4 linked regions of the Homo sapiens genome follow. The protein of the gene in region 2 interacts with the protein of the main gene of each other region in a biochemical or structural test. Each region holds a gene or a part of one and is shown on either strand. Other genes may lie near its edges. The genes, in order: CDK6, FARP2, CDH1 and PDZK1.

Region 1 (7,022 bases), on a different chromosome or scaffold from region 2:
ACAAACAAGAACTAGACCTGTAGTATAAGTGCCAAAGTAACACAACTAAAACTGAATAATAATAATTATGGCATGTCCCAGGGTGAAAAACCATGCAGCCATTAAAAATCTCATTGTATAAAAAAAGTCATATTGCAGAATTTTATTAGTGGCAAAATGTTGATAATGAATTGTTACATGTTTTTAAAAGAGCTACAAAATAATGTGTACAGAATAATAACCACTTTTACTTAAATATACTTATACATCCAAATATAATAAAATACGTAATTTTTAAAAGACAGACTAAAAAGACACAAAAAAAGTTATATTAACAGTGAAGTTTTCTCTGTTCTCCAAGTAGTGGAATTTTTTAGTGATTTTTCTTCTTCTCTGGATTCTTAAAACATTTTATTAGTTTCTGCATTAAGCATGCATCTATACATCTTAGCAATTTTATAATTAAGAAAAACATAGTGTGTGTTATAACACAAATAAAAACGATGTGCATGTTTTTAAATTTGTATACTGCTAATTGGCTGCTAAAGTTGTTTGAACACTGCAGCATGAACCAAACAGATTTATTCTTTATACTGTTTTAAATGAGTGACACTTAACTGTATAGAGGCTAAAGATGATGAGCCAACAGGACATTACTTTAGGTTAGTCATGCTTTTTAAAATTCAGTGCTTACAAGTTGTGTGCATGTGTTTCCAATAAAGACTTATTTGCCAAAATGTTCCTTGAACATTTTGTGCTACATTTTCACACTCCTGTTTATTCATTACAACTTATTGGACCTGCAGTGCTTCTCAAGTCTTGAAGGGCTTTTCCTCCCCAATGCAGTCTTCTCCAGGGTTTTGGGAAGCTTAGAAGGTCACCCCTGCCAGTTCAGAATATTCACTCAGGGGGATCTCAGAAATGATTCTAGATCACTGCATACCCCCTCTAAGTGCTTTGTTCACACCGACCTTGTAGCAGTGGTCATGTTTTCTTTTAGTTGTTTGTGAATCAGTCTCCCCCAGAAATCAGGACACTTATCTTGGCAATAATCATCCTAATAATTACTGTTTGTCAAGTGCTTACCATATGCCAGAAACTGTACAAGCACTTGGCATACATTACTTCATTTAGCCCCCTTAATAGTAGGAAAAGTAATCGCTACTTTCTCCACTTTATAAAAGGAAAAACTAAGGCTTTGGTTTTGAACAAGCTAAAATATAAAGACAGAACTCCGAACTCTAAAGGAAGAACCAAAACCATAAACCAGTAACCAAATATACTGTTCTCGATGAGAGGATTCAGTGGTCCGGCCAATGATAAGTGTATCCTCACAGCCCCTTCCAGCTCTGAAATCCATGGTGGTACCCAGTCATTTTTCTAACCCTTGTATTAACAAAACAGCTCCATCCTCCCTTGTATACACCATTCTTATAATATTTGGGTCAGGGGAGTAGGTCACTCTTAATTTCCACACATTTCAGAGGATTATGACATCATGGCCAATGTCTTAGTTCCTACCTTCAGACACTGTCCCTGAGTATTAAATCTTGTGTATATTTGTATTGGTCCTAAAATTAGAAAAAGATCTGATATTGGTTTATATCCTGAATGATCCGCTCCTCCATACTGGTTAATAATAACAGTAATAAGCGCTGCCATTTACTGAATATTAACTATGGTGCTAAGTGCTTTACAATGATCCTATGATAAAGTGGGCTTTGTTACTGTCCCATTTTACAGACAGGGAAACTAAGCCTTAGAGAGGTTAAATGGCTTGCCTTATTTTACGTATTCATTTGTTCATTGATTTGATAAAGGAATACATTGGAGATTTGAATCGAGGTTTTCCAGACCCTAGTTTAAATCAAGACTCTGTTAATATTCTAAAACAGTTGATTAAGACTGGGCATGGTGGCTCACACCTGTAATCCCAGCACTTTGGGAGGCTGAGGCAGGAGAATAGCTTGAGCCCAAGAGTTTGAGACCAGCCTGGGCAACATAGTGAGATCGCATCTCTGCAAAAACTAAAAACATTAGCCTAGCATGGTGGCATGCACCTGTGGTCCCAGCTACTTGGGAGGCTGAGGCAGGAGGATCTCTTGAGCCAAGGAAGTCAAGTCTGCAGGGAGCCGTGATCACAGCACTGCACTCCAGCCTGGGCAACAGAGCAAGATCCTGTTTAAAAAAAAACAAACAGTTAATCAGCACTCTCTTGCTAGTATGACTTTGGGCTAATTAGTAGCCTACATCTGTGTATCAGTTTCTTGACCTGTAAAATGGTGTAATGATATTATTTACCTAAATGTTGTGGTGTGGATTAAATTATTTACTAAGTGGACAATGCTTAGAATAGTGCTTGATATATAGTGAGTGTTTAGTACTAGGTGCTATAAAATAATAATCACCATTAATAACAATATTATTATTCACTGGATTTTAATTGTTGAAATGGCACATTAAACAATAGAGAAGCAAAAAGTGTCCCCTCACGACCTCCTCCTTCCTCTCCCCAGCATGAGCCACTGAAACCAGTTTGGCAGATATCCTTCCAGAATGTTTCCTATTCCATCAAAAACTATTTTAAAATTGTCCTTTCATTAATAAAATACAGGTTGAGAGTGAAATTTTTTGCAGTGTTCTTGAAAGTGTGGGAGTGGAAAGGCAGGAAGGGAGACAATTCACTCATTCAGCCAATACCTGTCAAATGCCTGCCGCATGCCAAGCAGCCACAAAATGCTAAGGATTCGGCGTCCAGCATAGCAAATGCTCAACTTCCGTTTTGAGTGTTTACTGATTTTCTTTTTTTAATTTTATTAGGATATGATGTTTCAGCTTCTCCGAGGTCTGGACTTTCTTCATTCACACCGAGTAGTGCATCGCGATCTAAAACCACAGAACATTCTGGTGACCAGCAGCGGACAAATAAAACTCGCTGACTTCGGCCTTGCCCGCATCTATAGTTTCCAGATGGCTCTAACCTCAGTGGTGAGTGAGAGAGTGCTGTCCTTTTATTAAACTTATTTTTCCTATTTTGAATGACAGTCTGTCCCTCTTCCATGTCTCTAATGTTAGTACTGCCCATGACTAGTTGGTGGATAGAATGTCTTTGCCCATTTTTATATGGCAGTGGGTAGGCAGAAAGCATTCTGCTTACAGCTACAGTCACATCCAGCCTGGGCTTGTTGTGGACAGGATCCATTGCAGAAATAGCCTGTTGCATCTTAGCCACTGGACAGGAATCAGTTACAAGTTTCCAAATGCTTTCTGCCATAACCACTGTTTTCAGAGCTGTATGTACAATGCCTAGGGAACACACAGCTCAAGGTCAGGGAAGAAAGAGCACGAGCAACGTTGACCTGTCTGCAGCATCATGGTTTTGAGAAACAGAGTGCCTACACAGGTTTGTTAATGCACTCATCTGAAGCTATGGTGCCAGCTGTAAAGAAGAAATCAAATTCACAGTGAACTTGGATGATGCATGAACGTAGAGCACCGCCATGCCAGGTGAAGGCTCATATAACCCTGAATAGAAAGAGCGAACCCAACGGCCCTGTTTTGGCAAAAAATAACAGTTATGATACCCTGTTTCTTTTTGCCATTCAGCTGCAAAACCATAATAGCTATTGACATTGGTTAGCTTCTATTTCTCCATATAGTTCATTATTTCTCAGATGGATTTTTGTGAAATTCTGCACCCCAAATACAAAAAGAGCAGCCTGGAAATAGGTATTAATACCCTTCTCTTTGAAAGACCTGTTTTGCATACAGTAAATTCATGCCTTACGTACAGTAAATTAAATAAATAATATATAGCAAATTAAGTCTTAAGAAAAAGAATTTTAAAAAAGAAAATATCTTTGTATATTCAAAGAAATAAAAAAAAATAATCCGTATTGTCCATCTTTAGCCTCAAAGTGGTTCTCACATCAGGGACAGCATGGCCCTGTTGTTAAGTAATGATTGGCAACATCTTTGGTCATTCTGCACAGCAAAAAATTGTTTCCCTAAATTTCAGTAATACTACAGCTGATAAGTAGAAATTCAAGAGAGGAGTTAGAAATTCTCTGAGACAGATAACTTGCCTTAGGAAAAAATCCAATTTATAAAAGTGTTCCCCACCCCCTGCCCCCAGTCAAAATAGGGGTGCTACCACCTAGACACGTAAGACCAGTTACTTTCCAAACATTATAGACTTTTCCTAGGGCATCAGAACTTTTGATGCAGAGGATTCCTTGGAAAATGTTGCCATTGTTAGAAGATAAATCCTACTCATTTCCTCTTTGCCCAGCATACACCATTGCTTTAGAGGAGAAATGGCACGAGTTGATGTTTAAAAGATAGGCCTCAGCTTTGAGCACGGTCAAGCAAGCCCTTGTATTCTTATGTAATCACACCAGAAAGGGCTGAGTCTGTGTATTTCCCCAGTGGGAAGGGTGAGGTAGGCTTTGAGTTTCCCTAGGAAGTTGTTGCGCATGTTGTTTTGGGGCCCTGGGGAGAAGCTTGAATAGGCTTTGTGATCCAGAGAGTCATCAGGGGAGTAGATGGAAGGAACTTGTCTCCTTGGGTACGTTAATTGAAGGAAGGATAAGCTGTAACTGAGATGGACGCTTTTATTTTAATCCCCCCAAATGGGCACTAATAACCATAAATAAAAACAGGAAACCCAGTTGGTTTGTGTTTGATTTTTTTTTTTTTTTTTTGCTTATTAAATTTGAGCTTGTGCGTAACATCAATTAACATTCCATTCTTGCTGAAAGTTGATATGTTCAAACAGGAAAATGTAGACAAATTATTTCATAGAGGAAAAGGAGAAAGGCAGTCATAAATACACAATTTTTCAGTATCTAGTTTATACTGCATGCTTTATATTTCCTATAGTGACATAAGTAAAACATGTTAGCAGCTGAGAAGGATTCTAAAACAAAAATCAGACTTTATTGGAAAGAGTGACGGTTGGAATTTAATGGTAATAATAAAGGGTATGTTCCTACAGGGTACTGCATTTTAAAATTTCCCCACTCTTTTGTATTTTTCTATTTAAAGGAAATACCCATTTAATATAGTAATGCGTCGATTTATATACACATGGTGACATAAAAACTTGGAATCATAGTTTTTTAGACTGAACTGGTATGTATTTTTAGTGTCTCTTGAAGAGAAAAAGACTACACTCCTCTTCCTGGAAATACACATTTTTTAGTGGGTTATGTCATACAGGAACTGAGAATCAACTTAATTTGTGGAATGTTAAAGGAATTACAAGTTAACTGATTCAAAACTGACATCTTAAAACTATGAGAAATGCTAGTATTTTACTTACCTTGCAAAGCCTGACTCCAGAGGTACCCTTTCTAGTATCCCCTTCAGAAATTAATTTCTTTTTCCTCTCTGTTTCCAGAGTAATATTTTGGGTTTTTTTGTTTGTTTTTGTTTTTGAGACAGAGTTTCACTCTGTTGCCCAGGCTGGAGGGCAGTGGCCCTATCTCAGCTCACTGCAACCTCTGCCCTCCGAGTTCAAGCGATTCTCGTGTCTCAGCCTCCCAAGTAGCTGGGATTACAGGCCACCCCAGGCTAATTTTTGTATTTTTAGTAGAGGCAGGGTTTTGCCATGTTGGCCAGGCTGGTTTTGAACTCCTGACCTCAAGTAATCCGTCCTCCTCAGCCTCCCAAAGTGCTGGGATTACAGGCATAAGCCACTGTGCCCAGCCTATAATACTGTTTTCTGTCTTGTTTTTAGTTATTTGGGAATTTTATTTATCAGGCCATAAGTTCCTCGAAGGCAGATGCTCATCTTATTCAGCCCTAACACACAGTGCCTTGTTTATTTTGATAGGCACTCAGGAAATATTTTTCAGTGAATAAATTGACAAATGCTGACTTGCAGATATAAGCAGTTGAGTCATAACAGGAATAGAGAAGGAGCTATGTTATACATTTAATGGTCTCATTTGATGTGTGTCAATATTCCTCATAGCTACCTGGTAATATTAAGCTGAAGGACTTACTCCATATACCTTAAAATGGCTGAGTCCATTTTGCACCCTAGTCCTGATTGATTTATTGGCAGCACATATCTGTGTTCAAAATCATGAAAGCTATTAATACATGCTGTAGCTCAATCTCAAGTTAGGAGTGAAAAGTTGACGCAAACCCAAGTTCACAGTCTGTGTATTGTTTTTATCATAATCCTTTCTACTGCCTCAGGAACAAATTACATATATGAATTGAACTTCCTGTCCTGAACAGAAAGCTGTAGAGATAGAGGAATGTAGCATTATTGTAATTTTACTTATTTGAAGACTTTCTTTAGCCCCTTGTGTTTTGTTATTAAAGCAAGTTTTAGAAGAGGAGTCATATTCTTCTAAGATAATTAACATCCTCTAAATGAAAGAATGGGTGAATTACTAGACAACTTTTACTATCTATGTTAATATATATATATTTACATAATAAATGATATTTCTATTTGAACAATTATAAAAGCTTGTATTATTAGCTTCTTTCTGAAAACTTCAAAATGTTCTTACATATAGAACTTTGAGGGAGCAGTTAACAGTATTTATTTTCATTTTAAGTTCATGATCACCTGACAGATCCTGAAGTACTACTTCTCCTTAATTTCTGAGCCAGTATGCTCTATGCCAGTATTCAAGACAAGGCATCTTTTGGATTAATTGAGAAATTAGTTGTTCTAGACAGGTAAGCTTTCCAGGCATCTTAAGGTATAACCCTTTATATTATGATCTTTATTATTTTATTTTTCTAGTGAAAACAAGTTTCTTGTTAAGAAACACGAGTTTCATAAGTAGAATATACTTCATATGTTGGCCTTTGGTAGAAATTAATTTAGGACAGTAGCCTGGACCATAGTTGTAGCTGTAGGTGGTATGCAACATCGGGCTGAATGACTTATCTTGTCCTCATCTGATAAATTGAGGACTAATCAAAGAGTTAAATGTCTTTTGCCTAACTTTGCCAGGCTGCCTCCAACATGACATTCTGGTGTCTTTATGGGGTATTGGGTTCTTGCTGCTCAATAT
Region 2 (7,566 bases):
TATGGAATGAAAATTTTACTTTTAGATCGATAAAATTTTATTTCTGTATACTTTCTAGTTTTGCAGCATTTCCAGTTTCCAGGAGCCTCATGAATGGCTTTTTGGTTTAGTTAACTTTGTGGTCATGTAAGCCCTGCCTTTTGCTCAGTTTATGACCTTTGTTAAGGAGAAAAGTAGAACTGTTAATAATTAACGCAGCAGACATTGCCTCACTCCCACTTAAGTGTGTTTTGTTTTCTTTTTTCTAGAAAACACTTTCCTGGATAAAAAAGAAAACATTCCAGATGCATGATCCAGCTGTGTGTTTTCAATCCTTGGGAGGGTGCCATCCACATTTTAACAGTACCTGTGCCTGAGAATTTAATTTTTAAAAGACTTTGATGTGTTTTTGTATGAAGTACTTTTAACGTATGTATTTCATTGCTGTGTCACACTCTGTGTTTTGTGAGGTGAATGTCTTCCTTTTCTTTCTCCCTAACCACTAATGTTAGAATTGATTTCCAAGAATCGGCATGTATACTTAATACTGAATTTCTTTGATTTAACTGACTTAACAACTGACTAACCATTGATGAGCACTCCTGATTTTTATCTAGAACATTCAGATTTACCATAATGTTCCTTAGTGGTAGAGGTGTGTGCCTAGTGATGTAGAAAGATACACTGACTTGGTGCAAGGCCATCTGCTTACCACATCACACCACTTGGAGATCTTTGCTTCCTTGCTTTTATGTTTGTACACAACACCTAAAACCAGTTTTGCTGCTATAATTCTATACTGTTGATTCGTCTGCGATTTTATCTGTTAACCAAATAAAACATAATAGAATTTCCTAATGAGATATATCTTTATACTTAAACAGCTTTTTTAGAGGTGAGTTTTAAAGAAGTCTCTTAATTCTGATGCTAGGTTGTTTTTAAAACCACTATGCAAAGAACTCACCACAAGCCACCTTTTGTAGTGTTCTCCACTAATACTGGTTATCCTGTGCTACAGAGAAAATCAAAGCAGTCATAAGCTCCAGTTTTCGTATTGCAAATAAGACTCTTACCTACAAAATGAGATTCAGTGAACTAATTTGGTTTTTACTCAACCAAATTAAAAATTTTTTTAAGGAAAATTAGCAGTTGGTCTATTCAGAATCAAACCTTTTTATATTTTATACTGCACTTTAGTGTATTTTCTGTCACTGTAGGTATAGAAGATCTGCCTCCCCTGTGGAAATTGGGGTCTGTTGGTGGGCGTGCCCCTGAAGCCTGGCTTGGGTTGAAAAGTGTTCCCGCCCTAAGGCCTTGGTGCCCTGAACCTCTGATGCCTACCGGGTTCTCCTGATTTGAGTTTCCTTTAAATACTCCCTTTTTGAGTAATTTTCTGATGGGAGGAAAGTAGCAGTCATCATCTTTTTGTGTGCAGGCTGTCTCATTTATTTTTAGCCATTGTCGTTTCATTCATTTTGTGTAATATAAACCGTGTGTCATGTCAAAGTGAAAGACATTTCAAATCTGTAGCATAGGCTAGTGGGCAGGTCCGCACAGTCGAAGCCACACCTGGTCTGTTTTCTGTGCACTGTAGCCTTAGTGTCACCTTTCTTCTTGTGTCTCCTTATGGTACACTCCAGCGGTTGCCTTTTTTATCATTTCTACTGAAGTTGGGAAATTCAACCCCAGAAATTGACAGATGAAAGGAGACAATGGTTGTGTAGGGAGATGGAGAAAATGCTTAATCTGAGGATGAGACAGGGTTTTTTCATTTTTGTGGGGGCTAGAAAAAACATAAAATGAGGCAGTTAAATAATAATAGTTAATGAAGGTGTGCTACAGAAAATAATCTGGTGTTCTTGCTAACTTTGCCCTTCACTGTTGCTTAATTGTGAACAGCCAAAAGCTATATGTTATGGCTTATTGTGTGAAGGTAACTAAGAAGTGGTGTTCCATGACTTCAGAGTACATCCATGCGGAGTCCATTATTTGAGTTTGACATTTAATAACTTTGCTGGAAAATCTGTAAAAAAGAAAAACAAGTTTGCTAGTGACTAAGCCCCGCATATGTGAGTGAAAGTACTTCAGGCACGCTGCCTCCTGGTAACAGCTATGCAGGGAGGGAGGACCCACACTGCTACACTTCTGATCCCCTTTGGTTTTACTACCCAAATCTAAATAGATACTTTTGATAATAGATAACTGCTCTTTTACTAAGACATAGTCTCTACCTATAGAAATGTATTTTGAAAACACTTATTTTACACAGCAATTTTGTATCCATTTAAACTAACCTTTTATCAATAAAGCACTATTGTTTAGATATTAAATGAGTATTTCTCTTGGTTATTTGCAAGGGAAAGTTGTGAGGTTTTCTGGGAAAATTCAAAGTCTTGACAACATCTTTGTATAAAATCAAGAAAAATTACTTGAATCAATAGTGTCAGTACTGGACAAGTTTGTACGTATTGGAGATCCAGCCCAAAAGAAAGCACAAAAGATTGGAAAGGAATTATTTACAGGTGATCAGAACATCTACTTAGAAAGTACAAGACATCTGGTGAAAATTAACACTAAGAAGTCAGTGATATCTATTTTCTAATTAGAAAATGTAGTGAGAAAAGAAATCGCATTGATAATAGCAACTACTAAATTACTGGAAATATAAGTGAATGATTGAAATATATCTAGGAAGAAATTTCTAACCTATAAATTTTCAAGAATAGGCTAAGGCGGCTCTGCCACTTGAGTAAAGGAAACTGGAAACCTGAATTGATCTGGGTGGCTGGACACCTACACTCCAAGGCCTCTAGCCTTCTTCCTGCCCACTGGACTGATCATCCCAGGACCACCTTGGGCCCCTTTTACCTTGCTATCAGTGTTTTCTGAGCTTCCTTATAGACAGACCCCTGGATACTGAAACTTGCTCTCTCTAGTTCCTCAGCTGACAGCTGCCACGCCTGCTGCCTTCCCTCCAGACTGCCAGCCTCAGGTCACCAGCACACACCCTGCATCCTACCAGGGGTCAGTACCACCCTCTGGCCAGGCTCTCACCTGCACTATCCCCACCCGGCCCTGCCCGTCTGCAGGCAGGGATCCTCTGTTCTGGGGTGTGTGCACCACTCTGGGCCTGGTGGTGTCATTGGGGGTTGGTTAAAGGAAAAGCCCCAGAGGTGGGTGGCACATGAGGGGAGCATCCCGCACAGCTGAGCCCAGTCTTGGTGTGCCTGGGTCTCAGACCCCATAGTTGTCTCAGGAGAAATGGAGGTTCCCCTGAGCCAGCATTTCTCCTGTCTGGGCTTCTGGGAAACGAAGGGTCAGGTTTCACTCTGGAATCCACAGCACCATAGGAGGAGTCTCTTAAGTGCCCGGGTGTTTCCTGAAGTTAATTATTCCCTCAACAGCCACATGGTGACAGTGGGTGACAGGGCCGGGCTAGGAGAGCACGATGGGTAGGGTCTTGAAGAACACATAGGAGTTCAATGAACTTCTCAAGAGAAGGGAAGTGTGCCACAGCAAGTCAGTCTTCCATTCTCGGGTGGGGGTCCCTAGGCCAGAGGAAGGCCGTCCTGGCCGCCACCACGGAGCAGCCTGTCTCAGCCTTAGCACAGCCTCGCGCGATCCTTCGATGATCCCCTTCGGTCCCTGTAGTCCCACGAGGGATGCAATGCGTTGGAGGAAGGAGGAGGCTGGCAGCCAGGGACTGAGCCAAAGGGTGCAAGGACAGCCGGCAAGGCCCGGGCCAAGACCTATCCCCGCCCAGCGAGCCAGGCCTCGCCCAGCACCTATCCGCGCCCAGCAAGCCTAGGCCTCGCCCAGCACCTATCCGCGCCCAGCAAGCCTAGGCCTCGCCCAGCACCTATCCGCGCCCAGCGAGCCTAGACCTCGCCCAAGACCTAGCCCCGCCCAGCGAGCCGACTCCCCGCCCAGGACCTAGCCCCGCCCAGCGAGCCGACTCCCCGCCCAGGACCTAGCCCCGCCCAGCGAGCCGACTCCCCGCCCAGGACCTAGCCCCGCCCAGCGAGCCGACTCCCCGCCCAGGACCTAGCCCCGCCCAGCGAGCCGACTCCCCGCCCAGGACCTAGCCCCGCCCAGCGAGCCGACTCCCCGCCCAGGACCTAGCCCCGCCCAGCGAGCCGACTCCCCGCCCAGGACCTAGCCCCGCCCAGCGAGCCGACTCCCCGCCCAGGACCTAGCCCCGCCCAGCGAGCCGACTCCCCGCCCAGGACCTAGCCCCGCCCAGCGAGCCGACTCCCCGCCCAGGACCTAGCCCCACCCAACGAGCCGACTCCCCGCCCAAGATCTAGCCCCGCCCAGCGAGCCTTGGCTTCGCCTAGGACATTGCCTCGCTCAGCAAGCCGACGCCCCGCCCAACGAGCCGAGCGCTGCACAGATTTATATCCTACGCAGCTGCCTGCCTGCTCCCGCCCCTTCTCCGTCCGTTCACCAATCAGAACTCGATCTTGCGCTTTCAGGCCGCGGGACGGGAAGGCTCCGCCCTGGCGCCCCGCAGGCCAATCGACTGCGCGTCCGCGTCGCGGGGGCGGGGTCAGGGCGGGGCGCGCTGCGCGGGGGCTGCCGGCGGGCAGTTGGGAGCAGGCGACGCCGACGCGAGTCTGGCGGCTGCTGCTTGCGACTGCGGAGGCCGGGCGAGGCCGGTGAGGACGCGGCGGGCGAGCGAGAGGCCGAGGGTGAGGACGTGAAGCGGCCTGGGCGCGTGGGGCAGGGGTGGGCCTCTCCGGGTGGGCGGCGAAGCCCGAGGCCCGAGGCGAGAGGCCCAGGCGGGGGGGGCGCTGAGGCCGCGGTCCACCAGAGATGGTCCCGCCCGGCCTCTGAAGGCCATCGTGAGGCGGCTGGAGCTCCTAGGCGGGTCCGGGTTAGAGGAGCGTCCGTCTGTAGGGAGCCTGCCGCGTGGGGGCAGGCGGGGCGGTGGGCCGGGGAGTGGCCCGCGTGGACTCCCGGGTTGAGGGGTGCCGCGTGGAGGAGGCCGGTGGGGCTGTAGACCGGGGAGTGTCCCGCGTGGACTCGCGGGTTGAGTTGTGCCCCGTGGAGGCCGGCAGGGCCGTGGGCCGGGGAGTGTCCCATCCCGGAAGGACACCCCAGAGTGGGCCATAGGGACCCGCAGGGTATGGGCCTGGAGGTGCCTGGTGGAGGCATTTTGAGCCGTTTGCCTTTTTAGCATTTCTTTAAATTGTATCTTAAAGGTGGGAATCAAGTGTTAGGTGTTAATATTTTTACTCCACTAAGGGCTAGAAATACTCATAAGCCAGTGGGTAGCCTTTGGGAAACCCATGAAAACTGGGGACCAGAATATGGCCCAGTACATTACACACCCGAATTACGGGCACCTTTTCCGTTTACGCTATGGCAGCAACCCCTGGCCTATCATGTGCCATTAATGGATGTGAAAAGCAGAAATTAGAACAAGGCATCATTGAAGGAAAGATTGTCAATACATAGTGTTAAAAAGGGATGGGCAAATTTAAAACCCAAGGCCAAATCTTTAAAGGGTGGTTTTTCTCTCTGGGTTTTTGTTTTTGTTTTGTTTCCGTGGGATATTTTTGTCTGGGCCACTGTGTAAATGTTTGATAACCCTGAGGTGGCAGTGGGTTAGCGTGTTGGTCTTGTGTAGACTGCCTTATAACAGGCGACACAGATTTTCTCAGTACCAGAGAGATGGGAGAGGACATTTGAGGTAGGGAAGCATGGAGTAACCTTTACTTGTAGGCCAAATATAATTTAAATTTTCTACATCTGCTTGTTGAAAGTTTTGTTTTGTTTTGTTTTTTGAGGTCCTTAAAGGTTTAGGAAGCACTTCATGCTCGTTATTTATTCAGTTTTCCAAAACTCTTCAGAGACATGACCAAGTTGCACAGCCCCGTTTTAAAGTAGAGGAAAGGGAGGTTGAGAGAGGTGGAATGACCAGTTTAGGGTCACACCTAGGGTACTTGCAAATACCATCTGTACTTCTCATGTGCCCTATCCTTGTTGCAGATTCTCATTAGGTGGTTCACTGTTAACAAACTAAATGCTGATGATGCAGTTTCCTGGACTGCAGACGTTTGCTGGCTTATTTACCTATAGGACTATCAGTCGTTAGTAAATTTCCAGGTTCCTTGTATACTAATTCCTTTCCCAAAGAGGAAGTTGATATAAGGTGTATTCATTTCTCTCTGCCTCAGGTTCCTTATTCAAAAAATGAGTTTAAAATTTACTTGGCCAGGCACAGTGGCTGTAATCCCAGCACTTTGGGAGGCCGAGGCAGGCAGATTGCATGAGCTCAGGGGTTCCAGACCAGCCTGCTCAACAGGGCGAAACCCCATCTCTACTAAAAATACAAAAATTAGCTGGGCTGGTGGCGCACGCCTGTAATCATAGCTACTTGAGAGGCTGAGGCACGAGAATCACTTGAACCCAGGAGGTGGAGGTTGCATTGAGCCAAGATTGTGCCACTGCACTTCATCCTGGGCGACAGAGCGAGACTCTGTCTCAAAAAAATAAAAAAATAAATAAAAAAAGCTGTGTTAACAAGATGCCTGGCACAAGGTAAGTGCTTAATAAATGTTAGCCATTATTATTATCAGGTGGACAAATAATCCGAGTAGAAAGTAGAACAAGCTAACCCTGGATATTTACAAAAAACAGTAGAGAAAAAATTAGGCAATAATTAAGCAAATTTATCCTGTTTAGAGGGAATGGTATGAACTGGATTGCCAAAGCAAAGATCAATGCATGGGCAATTCCATGTGAGCTCATTTAAATCCATTTGGCCCAAAGAATTCAGTTGCTTCCTTCCTTTCCAAACACCCCTGCTTCTAGTCACATCAATACCTCTTCTATATTCGGACAGTAACAGATTTTTCTTACTGCTGCTTGTCCTTTCAGTTTTGTTCTTATTTTTCCTTCACCCACTTTCATATCAGCTTGCCAGCTTCCCCTTTACTCAGTGCGTCATGAGCTTCATAAACACAGCATAGTGCTAGATATACAGGCAAAACCCCATTGTAGTGTTGGATACTGAGCTGAGGTAATTCCGGTCATGTTCTCTGAGATCAGAATATAGAGTCCTTTGACCATAGCGTATTTGTCAATGCCACAGGGAGTTGAAAAGTTGAGGATCCTACAAAGCAATATGATAAAGCCCAGTCTTTGGTGATTTTCTGGGGAGCGTTTAGTTGACAGTGATTCTATAAATTGGTCTAATCTTTTTGGAAAGTAGCAGTATGTGGCAAAGATTTTGATTTTGGAATCACACTTTTCAAAACAATCTGATAAACTTTGTTGTGTCAGTAGGGTAGAGTACTCCATAGCAAGTAAACATGCTTCCACAAGCTGAATCCCATCCTCCCATCCAAGGAAAATTTGAACCATTTTGATCCATGGAAATATGCTTTAAAATGTGACTTAACTGAAAAGTTGAAATGGTGTGTACACAGCAATCATAGTGTTGTAAAAATACATGAGGAGGTGAACAGGATCAGGAGGGTAGTTAGAGTGTTGTAAGTGGTTTTATTTTAAGAGTCATGAATTGTTTTCCCCTAAACTGGTGTTTTAGCTTATTGCCATTTTAAAATTCAAAAACAAAAA
Region 3 (7,881 bases), on a different chromosome or scaffold from region 2:
CAGGCCAGTGGCCAAAACACCCAGGAAGTGAAAGTCTGTCCTCTGCCATAAGGAAACCTGGAGTCTGTGATCCCATCATGCGGGGTCTGTTATCTGCCAGGTGACAGGGTCTCTTATCTATCTGCGGTGATCTGAAGGGCAAGGCCTCTGGCCAAACATTTCTTTTCCCCAGTGATGCCTGAAATTCCACTGTTAGCGCTGGATCTCAGCAAGATCTCAGAGAAAGCTCAACTCCTGGAGTTTGGGTTTTCCCCAGTTGAGATGTTAGGAAAGCAATGGGCCTTATCACCTGCACGGACAGGTTTGTGTACAGTCTCAGGGGATTCAGGGACCCCACCAGAGCCCATCCACAGACACCAGGTTAAAAGCCCTGGACAGCATTTACAACTCCTTTGAAAGAAGAAAAGTCTTTCTCTAGAGCCCTCTTTAAAGTGCAAATGGCCCTGGGAGGTTCGAAATGATGAGCTGGCCGGCATGAAAGAATTTTCTCCAGTAGATGCAAGAGATAACCTGAGGAGCTTTAGTGGCGGGGGTGGGGGAAGGAGAGCCTGGGGGAGGGGAGGCTCCAGGCAGCTCACAATTTTTCCTAGAACTGGAAAGGGAATGTATTGGGCCAAGAGGGCTAATCACTCACCTTTGCAGAGTGTTTACAAGAACCTTATGAATTAAGTGCTATCAACATTCCCATTTTACAGATGAGGAAACCAAGATGGTGGAGATAAAATGACTTATGCTTCTCAACTAATGGCAGAGCCAGAAGTGAATCCAGGCTGGAGTGAAGTGGCTCCAGTGCTCAAATGATCCTCCTACCTCAGCCTCCAGAGTAGCTGGGACTACAGGCATGCACTGCCATGTCCAGCTAATTCAAAATAATATTTGTTGGGGAGATGGGGTTTCACCATGTTGCCCAGACTGGTCTCAAACTCCTGGGCTCAAGTAATCTTCTCACCTCCCAACTAGCCTCCCAAAGTGCTGCGATTACAGTTGTGAGCCACCAGGCCTGCTTAGGTATCCCTGTTTGATACAAGAGAAAACAGAGGGCAGGCACAGTGGCTCACACCTGTAATCCCAGCACTTTGGGAGGCTGAGGTAGGTGGATCACTTGAGGTCAGGAGTTTGAGACCAGCCTGGCCAACATGGCGAAATCCCGTCTCTACTAAAATACAAAAATTAGCCAGACATGGTGACGTGTGTCTGTAATCACAGCTACTCAGGAGGCTGAGGCACAAGAATCTCTTGAACCTGGGAGGCAGAGAGTGCAGTGAGCCGAGATCGCGCCATTGCACTCCAGCCGGGGCAACAGAGCAAGACCTTGTCACTAAATAAATAAATAGGAAACAGAGAAGCAATTCAGTGTGTTGCGAAAGTCACACAGCACCTGTCTTCCACAAGGAGCCCCTCTGTGTTCCCGCCTCACCCTGGACACCTGATCTACTGTCTTTGGAGCTTGGAGAAGGACTTGCCGAGAAGTCTGAAGAATGCATCAGGCCTGACCTGACTTTGCTGCCCCTAATTGTTTTCTAAAATCCTTTTTATTGAATTATCAGAGTGTAATGGAAGAGTCGATGAGAGTCGCTGCAGAGTTACGAGGCCAAGGCTTGCTGGGTAGAAGAAAGTAAAGCCCTAAAGGCTCCCAGGGCCCAGCGATGGTATAAAATATGTATTTTTACATAACTGAGAGGAAAAAAATAAGCAGACAGTACAGCCCCATGGGGGAAACGCCTCTTTCTGTATTTCCATTATCTTGTTCAAGGCACGATCCTAGTGGGAAAGGAAATACCGGAGCCTTCTCCCTCTGAGCCTCCTGGTGGGTTAAGAGCAGAGGGAGCCAAAATACGACATCCAAAAGACCTGATTGGAAACTCATTAAAATTGAGGGGACAGGTTGTTGGGGGGGGCGGTGCTGGGCTGCCCAGAAATCGTCTGCATTTGAGAAATTACTTGATGGACTCAGAGGCACCTTTAGCTCTGGGTGAAATATTCCAAACATGGCTTTCCCCAGGAGGAAGCGAAATAGGGGCTGGGCCTTTTGAAAGAGTAACCCCTACTCCAAATATTTATTGAGCAGTTGCTATGATGAGCCAAGAACTCTGCTTAGCGATTGTTTTTGTATTAGCTCATGCCAATTCACTTATACAAAGGAGAACACTGACTTCCCCAAGGTCACAGGGCTAGTGAGTGGCTGACTCCACTTAATGCTGTGTAGTTCTAACCATGCTTGAAGGATAAAGGGAAAGGAGGTGCCCTTGTCGGGGTAGACAAGCCACCCAGACGTGGCTGGCCACAGGGAGTCAGACAGGGAAGTTGTCTAACCTAACATTTGCCTGTCTATTCTGTTTTTGTCTTTTGATGGAGGACGGCGGGTGCTGGAGGGCCACTGGCCCAGGACCTGAGACCTTTGGCCCCTATCTATTCTATTTTTGATCCTAAAATTATTTCACTGGGGACAGAATTCTCTGGAGAAGGTGATGGTGGCCATGGTGTGGCTGTGGCATTAAAAGCCCCACTCTGGGGGTCAGAAGATCCTGGGTTTTGGTCTTTGGCTTTGACATTGACCTGCCTATGTGACATTGAACAAGTTATTTGCAAATCATAGGTTTGGGTGAACTCTAAAGGTCTCTTCCAGGTCAACATCAAAAAACAGACTGAAAACTGCAGCTCCAGCTGGAAGACTGGGACCACATGAGATGAAGCTGATTGTTAGAAGAAAGGCCCTGGAATCAGAGAGGTTGGTTCCAGTCCTGCGCCACCTCTCATTGGCCTCAATCTCTCTAAGCTTCAGTTGCCCATCTATCATATGGGAATAATAATACAGCTCTTGGGTTGTTTTGAAATGAGCTTAAATGAGCTGGTCAGTGGCTGGGCACGGTGGCTCATGCCTGTAATCCCAGCACTTTGGGAGGCTGAGGCAGGTGGATCATCTGAGGACAGGAGTTCAAGACCAGCCTGGCCAACATGATGAAACCCTGTCTCTACTAAAAATACAAAAATTAGCCAGTCGTGGTGGCGCATGCCTGTAATCCCAGCTACTCAGGAGGCTGATAGAGGAGAACCGCTTGAACCCAAGAGGCGAAGGTTGCAGTGAGCCAAGAACACACCATTGCACTCCAGCCTGGGCGACAGAGCAGGACTCCGTCTCAAAAAAAAAAGAGCTGGTCAGTGTCAAATGCTTAGCACAGAGACTGGCACAGTAATCTTCAATGTCCAGCACCTATTGTTACTATTTTTTTTTTTTTTTTTTTTTTGAGACAGAGTCTTGCTCTGTCGCCCAGGCTGGAGTACAGTGGCGCGATCTCGGCTCACTGCAAGCTCCACCTCCCAGGTTCATGCCATTCTCCTGCCTCAGCCTCCCGAGTAGCTGGGACTACAGGCGCCCACCACCACGCCTGGCTAATTTTTTGTATTTTTAGTAGAGACGGGGTTTCACTGCGTTAGCCAGGATGGTCTCAATCTCCTGACCTCGTGATCTGCCCGCCTCGGCCTCCCAAAGTGCTGGGATTACAGGCGTGAGCCACCATGCCTGGCCCTATTGTTACTATTTTTACCCCTCACTTCTGTACAGAGCATTTATGGCTCAAGAAACATTTGTCATTTTAATTGTATGGGAGTCCCACAACAGCATAGGGAGACATTTCTGATCATTATTCCCATTAGGAGGGTGGAGAAACTGAGGCTTTGGGAGGTGGTCCTGACCTAGGGAATCAATTTGCTGACTCACTAACCCATGAAGCTCTACAGTTAAAAAAGACTAGATTAAAAAATGAGAACTCAGTAAAGGGGCTGAGGCAGGAGGATCGCCTGAGTTCAGAAATTTGAGATCAGCCTCGGCAACATAGTGAGATCCCCTCTCTAGAAAAATTTTTTAAAAAATTAGGCCGCTCGAGGCAGAGTGCAGTGGCTCACGCCTGTAATCCAACACTTCAGGAGGCTGAAGAGGGTGGATCACCTGAGGTCAGGAGTTCCAGACCAGCCTGGCCAACATGGTGAAACCCCGTCTGTACTAAAAATACAAAATTAGCCGGTGTGGTGGCACACGCCTGTAGTCCCAGCTACTCAATAGGCTGAGACAGGAGAGTCTCTTGAACCCGGCAGGCGGAGGTTGCAGTGAGCCGAGATCGTGCCACTGCACTCCAGCCTGGGCAAGACAGAGCGAGACTCCGTCTCAAAAAATACAAACAAAACAAACAAACAAAAAATTAGGCTGCTAGCTCAGTGGCTCATGGCTCACACCTGAAATCCTAGCACTTTGGGAGGCCAAGGCAGGAGGATCGCTTCAGCCCAGGAGTTCGAGACCAGGCTGGGCAATACAGGGAGACACAGCGCCCCCACTGCCCCTGTCCGCCCCGACTTGTCTCTCTACAAAAAGGCAAAAGAAAAAAAAATTAGCCTGGCGTGGTGGTGTGCACCTGTACTCCCAGCTACTAGAGAGGCTGGGGCCAGAGGACCGCTTGAGCCCAGGAGTTCGAGGCTGCAGTGAGCTGTGATCGCACCACTGCACTCCAGCTTGGGTGAAAGAGTGAGACCCCATCTCCAAAACGAACAAACAAAAAATCCCAAAAAACAAAAGAACTCAGCCAAGTGTAAAAGCCCTTTCTGATCCCAGGTCTTAGTGAGCCACCGGCGGGGCTGGGATTCGAACCCAGTGGAATCAGAACCGTGCAGGTCCCATAACCCACCTAGACCCTAGCAACTCCAGGCTAGAGGGTCACCGCGTCTATGCGAGGCCGGGTGGGCGGGCCGTCAGCTCCGCCCTGGGGAGGGGTCCGCGCTGCTGATTGGCTGTGGCCGGCAGGTGAACCCTCAGCCAATCAGCGGTACGGGGGGCGGTGCCTCCGGGGCTCACCTGGCTGCAGCCACGCACCCCCTCTCAGTGGCGTCGGAACTGCAAAGCACCTGTGAGCTTGCGGAAGTCAGTTCAGACTCCAGCCCGCTCCAGCCCGGCCCGACCCGACCGCACCCGGCGCCTGCCCTCGCTCGGCGTCCCCGGCCAGCCATGGGCCCTTGGAGCCGCAGCCTCTCGGCGCTGCTGCTGCTGCTGCAGGTACCCCGGATCCCCTGACTTGCGAGGGACGCATTCGGGCCGCAAGCTCCGCGCCCCAGCCCTGCGCCCCTTCCTCTCCCGTCGTCACCGCTTCCCTTCTTCCAAGAAAGTTCGGGTCCTGAGGAGCGGAGCGGCCTGGAAGCCTCGCGCGCTCCGGACCCCCCAGTGATGGGAGTGGGGGGTGGGTGGTGAGGGGCGAGCGCGGCTTTCCTGCCCCCTCCAGCGCAGACCGAGGCGGGGGCGTCTGGCCGCGGAGTCCGCGGGGTGGGCTCGCGCGGGCGGTGGGGGCGTGAAGCGGGGTGTAGGGGGTGGGGTGTGGAGAAGGGGTGCCCTGGTGCAAGTCGAGGGGGAGCCAGGAGTCGTGGGGACGATCTTCGAGGGAAGGAGAGGGGCATCCGTAGAAATAAAGGCACCTGCCATGCCAAGAAAGGTCGTAAATAGGAGTGAGGGTCCCGGGGATAAGAAAGTGAGGTCGGAGGAGGTGGGAGCGCCCCTCGCTCTGAGGAGTGGTGCATTCCCGGTCTAAGGAAAGTGGGGTACTGGAGAATAAAGACATCTCCAATAAAATGAGAAAGGAGACTGAAAGGGAACGGTGGGCTAGGTCTTGAGGGGGTGACTCGGCGGCCCCCTCCCGGGAGTTCCTGGGGGCTCGGCGGCCGTAGGTTTCGGGGTGGGGGAGGGTGACGTCGCTGCCCGCCCGTCCCGGGGCTGCGGGCTGGGGTCCTCCCCCAATCCCGACGCCGGGAGCGAGGGAGGGGCGGCGCTGTTGGTTTCGGTGAGCAGGAGGGAACCCTCCGAGTCACCCGGTTCCATCTACCTTTCCCCCACCCCAGGTCTCCTCTTGGCTCTGCCAGGAGCCGGAGCCCTGCCACCCTGGCTTTGACGCCGAGAGCTACACGTTCACGGTGCCCCGGCGCCACCTGGAGAGAGGCCGCGTCCTGGGCAGAGGTGAGGGCGCGCTGCCGGTGTCCCTGGGCGGAGTAGGGAGGGGTTGGAAAGGGGCCGAGAAATTGCACTCCCACACCCCTGGGTTGCAATGGGCAAGCTCCCTCCTTGGCTCAAACGACACCCCTTGGAATTTACGCAGATTTGGGGATCCAAACGTTTACGACTGAACACTGTGGTGGAGGGGGTAACCCTGCCTGGTTGTTGACTATGTTATAAAGAAGAGGAGGTTGAGGGCACTTACTAGAAGCCTTCGTATTTCTCTTATTGCCCTCAGCACTGTAGAGACAGTCTCTCATTTCAGACTGCAAAAACCTGGTGGGTGGGAAGGCCTGGCAGGAGTATTCCCGTTTTACAGTTGAGCAAACCGAGGCTAAGAGAGTGACGTCCACTTGCTCAGGGTCAGCAGAGCAGATATCTGAACTGGGATCTGACTCCCAGGCCCCATTAAGCACCATCTCTGGGATGACTGAAGAGCAGCCCTCTCTTGGTTACTGGGCTGTGGCTTTTGTTTACAGATATAAAAGCTTTTTTTTTTTTTTTTTTTTTTTTTTTTAAAGACAGGGTCTTGCTCTGTTGCCCAAGCTGGAGTGCAGTGGCACAATCATAGCTTACTGCAGCCTCCATCCTCTGGGCTCAAGTGATCCTTCCCATCTCAGCCTCCCTAGTAGCTGGTTATCATGGGCATGTGCCACCACACCTGGATAATTTTAACTTTTTTTTAGGCTGGGCGCAGTGGCTAACGCCTGTAATCCCAGCACTTTGGGAGGCCGAGGTGGGCGGATCACAAGGTCAGGAGTTCGAGACCAGCCTGGCCAACATGGTGAAACCCCATCTCTACTAAATAAAAATATAAAAATTAGCCGGGCATGGTGGCGTGTGCCTGTAATCCTAGCTACTCAGGAGGCTGAGGCAGGAGAATTGCTTAAACCCAGGAGGCAGAGGTTGCAGTGAGCTGAGATAGTGCCACCGCACTCCAACCTGGGTGACAGAGCAAGACTCCGTCTCAAAAAATAAATAAAAAATAAATTTTTTTTTAGAGACAGGAGTCTCTCCATGTTGCCCATGCTGGTGTTGAACTCTTGGGCTCAAAGGATCCTTCTGTCTCAGCCTCTCAAAGTGCTGGGATTGCAGGCCTGAGAGACTGTGCCTGGACCAAAACATCTTGATACAGGTACTGTTTCCCCCAAGGAATAATGATTTTTTTTTTTTTTTTTTTTTTTGAGATGGAGTTTTACTCTTGTTGCCCAGGCTGGAGTGTAATGGCGTGATCTCGGCTCACTGCCACCTCTGGCTCCCAGGTTCAAGTGATTCTCCTGCCTCAGCCTCCTGAGTAGCTGGGATTACAGGTGCCACCACCATGCCCAGCTAATTTTTTGTAGTTTTAGCAGAGAAGGGGTTTCACCATGTTGGCCAGGCTGGTCTGGATCTCCTGACCTCAGGTGACCCACCTGCCTCAATCTCCCAAAGTGCTGGGATTACAGGCATGAGCCAGCACGCCTGGCCAGGAATAATGATCTTTTTTTAAAAAAAGCATGGTAGTTCTGACTCAGGATGAAAATGCATACACCCAATGTACTTCTAGGCCTTATCGTTGTGACAATCTAGAGTTTGCTTTGTTCCACTTGACTGTTGTCCAGGGAGCAAGGGAAGGGGCTAGTTTCTCTTCTGGTTTCACTGAATCCCAAGTGCTTCCTTTATATCAAACCACTTTCTCCTCTCTCATGATTTTACTTGATTGGGTATCACAATAAGAGGCATTTTTTTTTTAAGAGAAATCACCCACAATTCCCCTGAGGGAACACCTCCACTGTGTCATTCTTCCAGTCTTTGACCACATGAATCTTTAGCAATCACGCTGTTGTCTTTACATTTTTTTTTTGAACTTTGGAAGT
Region 4 (7,022 bases), on a different chromosome or scaffold from region 2:
AGTACATTGAGACCTCGTCTTTCTTTTCTGATTTTTTTTCTTTTGGGGTCTTTTGGCCCTATGAAATGGAAAGGTGTAGGGATCTACAGGTGAGCTTGGACATAGATGTGAACTCAAGCTGAAACTGAACTGATGCTCGCAGGTTGGGATCAGCAGAAAGAGGAGTGAAAGGTGAGGGAGCTGGAATGGGCCACAAACAGGTGCCTGGATGTGACTCAACTCTGGTGATGCCATATTTTCTCCTTTCATCCCAGAGTGGTGTTTTCCTGGCAGCTGGTCATGGCTTTTGATAAGGCAGAGCTGCCTAGCTCTCCCAAGGTGCTGGTGTTGACCACTGGTGAGTGGCTTTGCTGTTTTCTTGCCTCAATGCTCGATGGGGAGTCTATTTGTTTGCTTCTTTCTTCGCTACTTAGTCACTCGTGCCACTGGTGGCGTGGGGCTTCAGACTTTGCGGAGACTGCAGGAGAGGCCTGGTATTGGGCAGCTGGGGGCTCTCTGTCTGATTTGTACTGTACGTCTCTGTGGGCATGAAGGTCAGGGATGGCTATCTTCAATCACCATGCCATGGCTTCTAGGGTGCCTGGAGCACTTTGTGGCCTATTCTTCACCCTCCCCCATATCCTGTGTGGTCATCCGTTCTTGTCCCTCCAGGAGGGAAGGGATAGGTGGTTTATTCTGATTTGTAGGTAGGGAACTGTGATGAGAGGAACTTGAGGGCTTGCCTTGCAGGTGGTGTGAAGAGCAGACTCCAGTGCTCTGTTGTGAGCCTTCTGCCTTCTGTATCAGCCTCTTGCTGTTCTGGCCCCTGTTCTTATTCTCCTATAAAAGAAAAAGCTTTCAGCCAGCAGGTGTCGGGGCACTGGCAGAAGTCTTACCCTTAATAATAACTGTGTGCCGGAGCCCTAGCTGTCGGTTTTACACTTGTCCTGTCTTCCTCCTATGGCTCAGGACCTTGCCCCTGCAATGGGGCAACAGGAGGGGCAGGATGAATGGAAATAGAAGCTGCTTCAGGCCAGGCATGGGGGCTCATTCTGTAATTCCAGCACTTTGGGAGCCTGAAGCATGAAGATCACTTGAGCCCAGGAGTTTGAGACCAGCCTGGGCAACAAAGCAAGACACTGTCTCTAAAAAAATTAGTTAGCAGGGCATAGTGATATGTGCCTGTAGCTCCAGCTATTCAGGAGGCTGAGGTGGGAGGATCGCCTAAGCCCAGGAATTCGAGGCTGCAGTGAGCTGCGATTGCGCCACTGCACTGCAGCCTGGGTGACAAAGCGTCTGGGAGGGAGAGCCCCAACCTAGCCACTGGAATCCCTTTTCTATCGAGCATCTCTTTTCTGCTGTGGCTAGAGACTTCAGGGGCCAGAACAGCCTTTTCTAGTGCATCTCCAACATATTGGACCAGCTCTAAGGCCTGGTGTCCTTTTTTTTTGAGGCAGAGTCTCACTCTATTGCCCAGGCTGGAGTGCAGCAGTGTGATCTCGGCTCACTGCAATCTCCACCTCCCAGGTTAAAGCAATTATCCTGCCTCAGCCTCCCGAATAGCTGGGACAACAGGTGGCTGCCACCACGCCTGGCTAATTTTTGTAATTTTAGTAGAGCTGGGGTTTCACCATATTGGCCAGGCTGGTCTCAAACTCCTGACCTTGTGATCTGCCCGCCTCGGCCTCCCAAAGTGCTGGGAATACAGGGGTGAGCCACTGTGCCTGCCTTTTTTAATGGTTTAAGCTCTTCCTTGTCCTGTCCTACCTCACCAAGCTTCTACTAATCCTTCAGTTCTTGGAAGTGTCATTCCTTCAGGAAATGTTCTTTGTTCTTCCCATCCCGCTCCCTATTCCCAAGACCCTTTGTTATTTTCCCCCTTATCACTGCATTCTTCCCCAGCATGACACTCACCACGTGTGGTTATAGGAATGTAATAATGTTCCCCAATAGAAGAGGCAAGGTATGGGTCCATCTTGTCTACAGATTTAACCTCGATTCCTTGAACTTGAAAAGCTCTTCAAATGTTTGAATGAGAGTGGGCTTGTCATAAATTTTTTGGGTCATGTATTTGGACTTAATTTCTTTAGGTCAGAGGACAAAGAGGAGTTTGGTTGGAGATACTGAAATGGAAGCATCTGTGTCCAGTACTCAGTAAAAAATACGTGGGTCTGAAACTCTAGTAAAAAGGTTGTCCTTGGGGAAACAGATTTGGAAATCATTAGCAAGTTCTGGAAGGTGTCCTCCTGTGCCCCCAGCATTACTACCCAAGCAGTCTAGATTTGGTGATTGGAAGAACAGAATTATAGGAGATGGAGGATGGGGTTCTCACTCCAATTAGATTCTCTTTTCCATGGTTTTATTAATTTATTTTTTTCATCACAGAAATGACCTCCACCTTCAACCCCCGAGAATGTAAACTGTCCAAGCAAGAAGGGCAAAACTATGGCTTCTTCCTGCGAATTGAGAAGGACACCGAGGGCCACCTGGTCCGGGTGGTTGAGAAGTGTAGCCCAGCAGAGAAGGCTGGCCTTCAAGATGGAGACAGAGTTCTTAGGATCAATGGTGTCTTTGTGGACAAAGAAGAACATATGCAGGTGAATGAGACATTTGGGGCTTTTCTTCCAGGATCTCTTCAGCCCCCACATCTTCTCTGCTGATTATAATTTTGGGGGTTGGTAGAGTTTGGTTCTTTCCTGGCTGCCACTGGCAAGGCAGGACACCTTTATTGCTGTACCTTGTGTTGGCCAATCAAGTCCCCTATGAGGAACCAAGAACTGTACACATTACTCTTGGATTTGAATAGCGTTAGGTCTAACATGAATTGCATGTTCACTATATACCAAAAATGGTGCTAGGTATTTTTTTTTTTTTTTTTTTTTTTGAGATGGAGTTTCGCTCTTTCACCCAGGCTAGAGTGCAGTGGTGCGATCTCGGTTCACTGCAAGCTCTACCTCCCGGGTTCATGCCATTCTCCTGCCTCAGCCTCCCAAGTAGCTGGGACTATAGGCACCCGCCACCACACCCAGCTTTTTTTTTTTTTTTGTATTTTTAGTAGAGATGGGGTTTCACCGTGTTAGCCAGGATGGTCTCGATCTCCTGACCTCGTGATCCGCCCGCTTCGGCCTCCCAAAGTGCAGTGATTACAGGCATGAGCCACCACGCTCGGCCAGCAATTTTATATTCATTATCTTGTTAAGTCCTCATCATGACCTCATAAGGTATATGTTACAATTTCACAGATTAGGAAGCTAAGTACAGATATCTTAGCTTGCTAACATGTTCCTGCTGAGGATATATGGGAGAGTCTGGCCTTACCTTATTCTGCCTGACTCCAAAAGCATGGTCTTTTCCTTACACTGTGCTGTCCCCATGCACACGGGAGGAATGGTTACAATCTAGGGCAGCGCTCCTCTCTAGAAAGGACCAGTCTTGTAAGAACCCTCTGGGCTGGGGTTGAACCACACTCTATATTCCAGCAGTGCCAGAAGCTCAGCCTAATCTGCACCTGGATCTCGGGAGGGCAGGGATGGAGGTGGCTGAGGAACTACCTGCTTCTACTTGGGTGTCAAGGGTCAACTAGCAGCATCTCCAGGGCCAGATATTGAGCCAGATGGTCAGCATTTCCCTCTGGCAGTTGGCAGAGGGTTATTAAAGTTACCTTTTTCTTCTTCCCTCCTAGGTTGTGGATCTGGTCAGAAAGAGTGGGAATTCAGTGACTTTACTAGTTCTGGATGGGGATTCCTATGAGAAAGCAGTGAAAACACGGGTGGACTTGAAAGAGTTGGGTCAAAGTCAGAAGGAGCAAGGTTTGAGTGATAATATACTTTCCCCTGTGATGAATGGAGGTGTGCAAACTTGGACCCAGCCCCGGCTCTGCTATCTCGTGAAGGAAGGAGGCAGCTATGGCTTCTCTCTGAAAACTGTCCAAGGTGAGAATTTTTTGGGGAGCAGGGGGAGGCAGGGGCAGGGCACAGACAACAGGCTTCCAGAACAAAGATGCTACTGGTTAATGACTTTTCTTCTTTGACTGACTTTTCAGTTGCTATAGATAGCTTGCAACAGCTTGCCTCCCTCCGTCTCTCACTCCCTCCCTGCCCTTTCCCTTGCCTTGCACAGTTGTGCAATGGGGGAGGGACACTGGACAGCAGTGGGGGTGGGGGGCACTGGGTACTCCTGTCCCTGAGTGTTTGTCAGGCTGGCACTTGAGGACTCTTTGAGGTCAGGGGGCCAGAGGGTTGATGCTTCTAGCCCTCTTAGGGTGAAAATGAAGGGCAGAATAAGGAATAAAAGGCAAGAAAAATGAGATTCTTCATAATAGCTATTTTTGAGTAAGATTGGTATCTTTTTTTTATCTGAGTGCCCAGATAGTCATTCATTTATTCAACAAATTCTTGAGCACCTGCTGATGTGCCAGGCACTGTTACCTTTGCTGAGAATACCGCAAAAATTTCCACCCTCCTGTAACATTTTGATAGTACCCTCAGCTGCGGCTCAGCCCCACCTGTTCTGAGGCGCATCTTTGAGCTCTGGCTAAGAGGTACATAGTGATTTGAGAAACCCTGACCATCAGGAAGCACCAGAAGTTCTATTTCTAGAATTTCAGAGGTGCAGACTAACCTGTGTTCAGTTGACCGTGGCTCTGGGGTATTGGTTGGAACCAGAGGAGCTGTGTTAGCTGGTCAATTCCTTCTTGAACACTGCCTCTGCCTATGTTCTTTCTGGGGCTGGAGAAGCACTGGTGGTAGGTCATGATTTGGCAAGTGATACAGCAGCAGACCAGTGGTAAATTTAAAATAGTTTCTAAGGCTTATTTAACCTGTACCAAGAGATGTAAACTCACGATAAGGGGTATTTCTCAGGTCTGTCAGTTATTAAACACAGTGGTGTGTATAGTCAAAGGAAGCTTGGCACGTCTTAGAAGCCTATTATCAGTAAAGTGGTAAAAAAAAGAAAATCATAATTCAGATTCTACTCATCTGGCTCATGTGCTAATGCACATGGTGAATGGTTTAGGTTAGCTTTATGAGGAAAATGGTCTCTTCATGACAAATATATAACAAGGTAGCAGGAGAAATGCTGAGTGTTTAAGGAAGCAGAGTTTAAGTTATTGTCATTCCTTACAAGTGATTTATGTAGTCATTAGCAAGCGATCCCTTGCCTAGGTTGACATACAAGAGTCCCCCCTTATCCTGTTTGGCTTTCCATAGTTTCAGTTACCTTACCTGCAGGCAACTGTGGTCTGAAAATATTAAATGGAAAATTCCATACATAATTTTTGCATTGTGAACCATTATGAGTAGTGTAATGAAATCTTGTGCTGTCCTGCCCCGTCTTGGACATGAATCCTCTGTTTGTCTAGCATCTCCACGTGGCATGTGCTTACCTGCCTGTTAGTCTTACTACTTACTACTCAGTTACCAGGTCAACTGTCACGGTATTAAAGTACTGTGTTCAAATAATCCTTATTTTGCTTAATAATGGCCCAGCACAGAAAGAAAAATATCACATATTCTCATATGTGGGAGCTAAAAAAGGTGAATCTCATGGAGGTAGAGAGTAGAATGAGAGATACCAGCAGCTGGGAAGGGTATGTGTGTGGGGTAGGGTGGGGATGAAGAGAGCTAGGTTAATGGGTACAAACCCACAGAGAGAAGGAATAAGTTCTAATGTTTGATAGCACAGTGGGGTGACTGTAGTTAACAACAATGTATTGTACATTTCAAAATAGCTGTAAGAAGATTTGAAATATTCTCAACACAAAGAAATGATAAATGTTCAAGGATGGATGTCCTAAATATTACACCCTGATTTGTTCATTATATGCTCTTGGTATCAAAATATGACACACACCCTATAAATATGTACAAATGTTATGTATCAATAAAAAATAATAGCTCAGGCCGGGCGCAGTGGCTCACGCCTGTAATCCCAGCACTTTGGGAGGCCGAGGCGGGCAGATCATGAGGTCAGGAGATCGAGACCATCCTGGCTAACACGGTGAAACCCTGTCTCTACTAAAAATACAAAAAATTAGCCGGGTGTGGTGGTGGGCGCCTGTAGTCCCAGCTACTCAGGAGGCTGAGGCAGGAGAATGGTGTGAACCCGGGAGGCGGAGGTTGCAGTGAGCTCAGATTGCGCCACTGCACTCCAGGCTGGGCGATAAAGCAAGACTCCGTCTCAAAAAAAAAAAAAAAAAAAGCCAAAAATGCAAGGATAGTGATGCTGGCAGTTCAGATATGACAAAGAGAAGCTGTAAAGTGGCCGGGCACAGTGGCTCATATCTGTAATCCTAGCGCTTTGAGAGTGCGAGGCGAGTGGATTACCTGAGGTCAGGAGTTCGAGACAAGCCTGGCCAACATGGCGAAACCCCATCTCTACTAAAAATACAAAAATTAGCCAGGCGCGGTGGCAGGCGCCTGTAGTCCCAGCTACTCGAGAGGCTGAGGCAGGAGAATCGCTTGAACCGGGGAGGCAGAGGTTGCTGTGAGCCAAGATTGCGGCCCTGCGTTCCAGCCTAGGTGACAGAGCGAGACTCCATCTGTTAAAAAAAAAAAAAAAAAGGCTGTAAAGTGCTTCTATTAAGTGAAAAGTTCTCGATTTAATAAGGAAAGAAAAAATACTGTATGCTGAGGTTGCTAAGATTAGCTCAGTTATTGTTAATCTCTTACTGTGCCTAATTTATAAGTTAAACTCTATTGTAGGTATGTAAGCACAGGAAAAAACATATAGGGTTCGGTATACTATCTTAAAGTTTCAGGCCTCCACTGGGGGTCTTGGAATGTATCCCCCATGGTTAAGGGGGAACTGCTCTATTAATATCTTTGAAGAATTGACAGCATTTCTATAAGTAGCACCTAAATCTCACCACCTAAATGCATTCGGGTTCTTCCCTCCCTCCTGTGCCTGTCCTTGTTAGCCTACATTGGTGAGATGACTCCACAGCATACGATGGCTAATATAATAGTACAAACTGAAGAGGAGAGAATGGTAAAGATGCTTTCTGATTCTACAAATGCAAAGAAAGGGCGTATGACACAATA

What was found.
Region 1: the proteins of FARP2 (region 2) and CDK6 form a complex in vitro, tested with the Homo sapiens proteins (one study listed by BioGRID).
Region 3: the proteins of FARP2 (region 2) and CDH1 form a complex in vitro, tested with the Homo sapiens proteins (one study listed by BioGRID).
Region 4: the proteins of FARP2 (region 2) and PDZK1 form a complex in vitro, tested with the Homo sapiens proteins (one study listed by BioGRID).

The regions. Positions count from the first base shown.
Region 1 is NC_000007.14:92,721,571-92,728,592, reverse strand, and holds part of CDK6 (cyclin-dependent kinase 6), read left to right. Parts: intron 1-2,799; coding exon 2,800-2,967; intron 2,968-7,022. UniProt on the Homo sapiens protein: Serine/threonine-protein kinase involved in the control of the cell cycle and differentiation; promotes G1/S transition. Phosphorylates pRB/RB1 and NPM1.
Region 2 is NC_000002.12:241,351,719-241,359,284, forward strand, and holds the start of FARP2 (FERM, ARHGEF and pleckstrin domain-containing protein 2), read left to right. Parts: upstream 1-4,566; 5' UTR 4,567-4,670; intron 4,671-7,566. UniProt on the Homo sapiens protein: Functions as a guanine nucleotide exchange factor that activates RAC1. May have relatively low activity. Plays a role in the response to class 3 semaphorins and remodeling of the actin cytoskeleton.
Region 3 is NC_000016.10:68,732,423-68,740,303, forward strand, and holds the start of CDH1 (cadherin-1 isoform 1 preproprotein), read left to right. Parts: upstream 1-4,869; 5' UTR 4,870-4,993; coding exon 4,994-5,041; intron 5,042-5,874; coding exon 5,875-5,989; intron 5,990-7,881.
Region 4 is NC_000001.11:145,683,366-145,690,387, reverse strand, and holds part of PDZK1 (Na(+)/H(+) exchange regulatory cofactor NHE-RF3), read left to right. Parts: exon of another isoform or gene 1-279; coding exon of another isoform or gene 280-337; intron 338-2,364; coding exon of another isoform or gene 2,365-2,366; coding exon 2,367-2,576; intron 2,577-3,661; coding exon 3,662-3,911; intron 3,912-7,022. UniProt on the Homo sapiens protein: A scaffold protein that connects plasma membrane proteins and regulatory components, regulating their surface expression in epithelial cells apical domains.